2 separate regions of the Homo sapiens genome follow, and region 1 is linked to region 2. The links come from fine-mapping of genetic effects on gene expression. A gene starts in region 2. The other region holds a variant in brackets. All regions are shown on one strand. Distances are between the middles of the regions. Region 1 has its middle 26 kb from the start of CEACAM20. Region 2 holds the start of KLC3 (kinesin light chain 3).

Region 1 (2,808 bases), 790 kb before region 2:
GTGGCATACGCCTATAGTCCCAGCTACTTGGGGGACTGAGATGAGAGGTTCACTTGAGCCCAGGAGCTCGAGGCTGCAGTGAGCCGTGATTGCACCACTGCACTCCAGCCTGGGTGACAGAGTGCGACCCTGTCTCAAAACAATAACATTTCAAAAATTGATACTGAGTTTCTATAAAATTGTAAGAATTCACTACACTGATGTTAGAATTGTCTTAAAAGAATCTTAGAGCAGCCAACATAAAAATGCTTCAATGAACAATTACAAACACTTGAAATAAGTGAAAAACCAGAAAGTCTCAGCAAAGAAATAGAAGATATGAAAAAGAACAAGACGGAAATTTTAGAATGGAAAAGCACAATAACAGAAATTTTTTAAAAACTTAATGTTTGAGCCCAGCTGCAGAATGGAGATGACAGAGATAAAAATCAGTGCAGATAAAAGTTACCAAATCTGAACAACAGAAAGAAAATAGACTGATAAGAAGTGAAGAACAGAACTTTGGGACCTGTGGGACTTTAACAAAAGAGCCAACATTCATGTCATTGGAGACCCAGAAGGAAAGGAGGAAGTGGGTATAATGGCTGGTTTCCCAAATCTGGTAAAAGACATACATCTATGGAATCAAGAAACTGAGTAAACCCCAATGCCAGCGTGGTAATCAGGATTCTAAATATAGTCCTTCCAGATTTCTGTTCCTGATTGTTCAATCAAATGCTAATCTAGGTATTGCTTTGAAGGGATTTTGTAATTAAAGCTCAAAGTCAGCTGATCTTAAAATACAGATCATCTGGGTGGGCCTGACCTGATCAGGTGACTCTTTTAAAAGCAGATCAGATGAGAAAGTCAGAGAATCAAAACACAAGGAGGATTCAATGCATCCTTGCTGTCTTTGAAGATGCAGGGGTCAATGTGTGAGCAGGGTAGAGTGGCCTGCAAGAGCTTAGAGCACCCGCAGATGACAGCCAGCAAGGAAACAGACCTCAGTCCTACAACTGTAAGAACCTGGATTCTGGCCAGGCACAGTGGCTCATTCCTGTAATCCCAGCACTTTGGGAGGCCGAGGCAGATGGATCACGAGGTCAGTAGATCGAGACCATCCTGGCTAACATGGTGAAACCCCGTCTCTACTAAAAATACAAAAAATTAGCCAGGCATGCTGGTGGGTGCCGGAGCTTGCAGTGAGCCGAGATCGCCCCACTGCACTCCAGCCTGGGCGACAGAGCGAGACTCCATCTCAAAAAAAAAAAAAAAAAAAAAAAGAACCAGGATTCTGCCACCATCTGAATGAGCTTGGATATGGGTTCTTTCCCAAAGCCTACAGGTAAACCCCAGCCAACTCACATCACACCTTGATTTTGACCTGGTGAGAGAACCCAGTTGAGGACACTTGGACATCGAGGTACAGAAACTGAAATAGTAAATGTTATTCACTCTCTTAGTTCACCCAGAATCAGACTCTGCACTAGAATGTAAGTGCAATTAGTTTATTATTTATTTATTTACTTTTTTGGAGATGGAGTCTCGCACTGTCGCCTGCCACCACGCCAGGCTAATTTTTTGTATTTTTAGTAGAGACAGGGTTTCACCATGTTAGCCAGGATGGTCTCGATCTACTCACCTCGTGATCCA[C/T]CTGCCTCAGCCTCCCAAAGTGCTGGGATTACAGGCGTGAGCCACCACACCTTAGTGCAATTAGTTTATTTTGGAGAAAGCATTGGCAGAGGTGTGGGAAAGTAAGTAAGGGAAAAGAAGGAAGCCATATAGAAAAATTAGCTCTATAGAAAACTGGAGCTCACCTCTGAAAACTGGTACAAAACACACCTCTGAGGGCCGGGCGCAGTGGCTCACGCCTGTAATCTCAGCACTTTAGGAGGCTGAGGCAGGCAGATCACCTGAGGTCGGGAGTTTGAGACCAGCCTGACCAACATGGAGAAACCCCCTCTCTACTAAAAATACAAAATTAGCCCGGCGTGCTGTCACATGCCTGTAATCCCAGCTACTCAGGAGGCTGAGGTGGGAGAATCACTTGAACCTGGGAGGCGGAGGTTGCGGTGAGCCAAGATCGTGCCATTGCATTCCAACTTGGGCAACAAGAACGAAACTCCATCTCAAAACAAAACAACAACAACAAAAAATAAAACCACCTCTGAGTTGTTCCCCCTAAGTTCAGGGGAATATATCTACCAATTCCTTCTTGGTGTTAGTTAATGGTCACTCCCAGGATGTTAATTTCTCTGACATTTTCAGCCTGCCCTCAGTTGGGGCTTGCATCCTCTTGTACTCAGAGAAATCAGAGAGGCACAGACACTCATGGAAGGGGTTGCGGAAGTACTCACCACTCTCTTTCAGTCATTTCGAGAATTTCTCTTCTTTCATCATTCAGTCGTCCTAAAAGTCCTGTGTGTCAATAATAAATTACACCCACTGAAAGGAAGACGTATATTTACATTTCATGGCCTTTCATTTTCTATTAGTGTCCCCTTCATTCCACTCCATCTTATTATTAGAATGATTCTACCAGTGTCTTTCTGGAAAATAGGTGTAGGAATAAATTTATTCTAAAAAATAAAACAACATCTACGCAAAGAGGTCTTAAAACCTTCATAATTAGCTCTATAAAACAATTAACTCCAAGAAGTAATGCTGAATGCTTTCCAAATGCATACTGACAGTAAGAAAACATTATCAAATACCCACATTTGCATTTTTTCTAGACATGGTTACAGACCTAAATCCCTCAGTTGATCAGCTTGAGGGACCAAATAAATCTCTGTTATCGGTATAGCAACAGCACTTACTTGTTTTGTA
Region 2 (2,808 bases):
AAGTACTGTCCTGGCCAGGCGCGGTGGCTCACGCCTGTAATTCCAGCACTTTGGGAGGTCGAGGTGGGCAGATCACCTAAGGTCAGGAGTTCGAGATCAGCCTGGCTAACATGGGGAAACCCCGTCTCTACTAAAAATGGAAAAATTAGCTGGGCATGGTGGCGGGCGCCTGTAATCCCAGCTACTCGGGAGGCTGAGACAGGAGAATGACTTGAACCCAGGAGTTGCAGTGAGCCAAGATAAGATAGCGCCATTGTACTCCAGCCTGGGTAACACAGCGAGACTGTGTCTCAAAAAAAAAAAAAAAAAAAAAAAAGTACTGTCCCTGTATTAGTTAACATTCAATTCTCAAAGCCTTAGACTATTTATATTTTATTGACTAGGGAAACTGAGGCACAGAGAGGTTAAGTTACTTGCCCAAGGCCTGCACAGCAAGTAAGTGCCGGAATCAAATTTGAACCCTGAGCCCAATTCTTAGATATCACATTCCCTTGCCAATAACATAATATATAACATAACATAATGATGTGATATATGTTATATAAAATAACTTTAGGGGCCGGGGGCGGTGGCTCACTCCTGTAATCCCAGAACTTTGGGAGGCCGAGGCGGGAGGATCACTTGAGGTCAGGAGTTTGAGACCAGCCTGGCCGACATGGCGAAACCCCGTCTCTACTAGAAATATAAAAAGTAGCCGGGCGTGGTGGCAGACACTTGTAGTCGCAGCTACTCGGGAGACTGAGATGGGAGAATCGCTTGAACTTGGGAGGTGGAGGTTGCAGTGAGCCGAGATCGCGCTACTGCACTCCAGCCTGGGTGACGGAGCGAGACTCCCTCTCAATAAATAAATAAGGTAATTTTAGGCCCTGAAAAGTTTTGTGAACAAAATCAAGAGGAGTATGTAATGTTTTGGTGGAAGGGTGCCATTTAGAAGGGGGCAATCAGGGAAGGCCTGCCGGAGGAGGTGGCCTTTGAGAAGAGACCTAAAGACGATGAGATCTGTGGGAAGAGAGATCGAAGCAGGCCACACAACCAAGGAAAAGGCTCTGGGGCAGGCACTGCAAGAAAGCCACCTGTCTGGGATCTAAAGTTTCCAAAGTTTTAGCTTGGCCAAGGCCCCTGCGCTACAATCACCCTGATTCGAGGTGTCCTGGAGGTTACCAGTTCCGCGTGCGAAGTTCTGCCATTCCCGCGGGGCTGGAGCCCCGAGGCTGAACTTCCCACGGGCGGTGGGCGTGGCCGGCTCACCTGCGGGGGCGTGGCTCCCGGCTGCCCCGCCCCTCGGAGGAGCCGCCCGAGGTCCCAGACGCCCGGCGCAGCGGGAGCGGCGGGGCGTGCCTGGCCTGCGGGACGCGACTGATCGCAGTGGGGCGAAGCGGGGCCGGAGCCGCCCGCGGTCAGGTGGGTGCCGGGAGTGGGGCGCGGGACTCTCGGAGAGCCGCGATGATGGGGGGCGGGGGCAACCCTGGGCCCGCTCGCCCTGAGACGGGGAAGGGCCTTGGGGCTCCCGGATGCCCCCTGCCCCGTCCTGGGGCTCTCCGGGATCTGGAGGCCTGGCTGGGGTCCCATGCCCCCCACCCCAGCGCAGGTAAACAGCGAGGACGGGGCGGGGCCTGGGAGGGAGAGGGAGGGGGCCCTTGTGACTGCGGGTGAGCCTGGTGCGCGGGGCTGGGCAGGCCAGGGTAAGTTGGTGCGGCTTGCGGGGCTGGGCCACGATGGGAGTCTCCTGCCTGCCTGTGTTTGTGTGTGTGTGTGTGTGTGTGTGTGTGGCTTTGCGTGTGTGTAAGAGAGTGTGTCAGGCTGTGGGTATGAGGGTGAAAGCGACTGTCCGTGTAACCCTGTGATGGGACTGTGTGTATGATGTGACACTTTTAGCAATGTGAAAACGTGGGCGACCTCTGACTGGAATGGTGTGTGTGTAGAATTGGATTGCTGGTAGCACTTTACGACCAAGAGCTAGTGCGACTGTAGTCGACTTTCTGCTTGGCCTGATGTGCATGTGTGTGGCTGTGTGTGTGGCTGTCTTCATGGCAGAGAGTGGAACTGGTTGTAGGATTAGGTGTGATTGACCAAGAGGCTGTGCGGCTGTGGTTGTCTTTCTGCCTGTTGGTGTGTGTGTGTGTGTGTGTGTGTGCGCGCGCGCGTGTGGTGGACAGTGTGGCACTGGATCAGTGATAGGTGACTATGATTGACTTTTGATTGTGTGTCACTGTGATGGTGCATGGGGCTGGGCGGAACTGTGTCCAGAAGTGGAGCTGTTTCATGGGACGGTGCGCGTGGAACCTTGGGGTTGGATGAGTGAGGTGTGGAGGTGTGTGAAGCCGTGTGTGCGTGTGTGTGTGTGTGTGTGTGTGTGTAGAGAGGAACTAGAGGGTGTGTGATCTGCATTGATACCGTGGCTGGCAGTGGTGTGCAACGGAGAGTTTGTGGGAGATGGGAGTGGAGACGTGGACATTTAAGTGGGATGCTCCTCCAAGCGGGTGACAGGATGGAAAAGGGGGTCCGCGTCAGGGATCAGTGTGTGGGACTGTGCCTATGATTATCAGCTGTGCGGTTGTGCACCCGGGGCTCTGTGTGAGTGTGGGAGCTGCTGTGTGTCTGGGACACAGCCCGAGTGCTGGATGGCTGTGGTTGAGCCGTGTTTGTTGCTGTGGTTGTCAATCTGGCTGTGGAGTGGTGTGTGTAAGGCTGTGTCTGAGGTTATAGAGGGAGGTTTTACATCGGCAAAATTGTGTGAAGAATGGTTGTGGTTGTCAGGATGACTCTTGAACCTGTGTGGTTGTGAGTTCAACCATTTATGATGTTTGT

Evidence for each region. PIP is the estimated chance that this variant, and not a neighbour inherited with it, causes the effect. A credible set is the group of variants that fine-mapping cannot tell apart.
Region 1: its variant is the best candidate, but not a certain one, in a credible set for the expression of KLC3 in whole blood (INTERVAL, PIP 0.59).

Annotation. Positions count from the first base shown.
Region 1 is chr19:44,554,266-44,557,073 of GRCh38, forward strand. It overlaps the pseudogene CEACAM22P. Among named protein-coding and RNA genes, the nearest start is that of CEACAM20, 26 kb to the left of the region's middle. The variant C/T (reference allele first, on the strand shown) is at 1,633.
Region 2 is chr19:45,339,446-45,342,253 of GRCh38, forward strand. It overlaps KLC3 (kinesin light chain 3), which reads left to right and starts at 1,305. Exons shown (of 13, transcript NM_177417.3): 1 at 1,305-1,401. RefSeq lists a silencer at 1,201-1,290.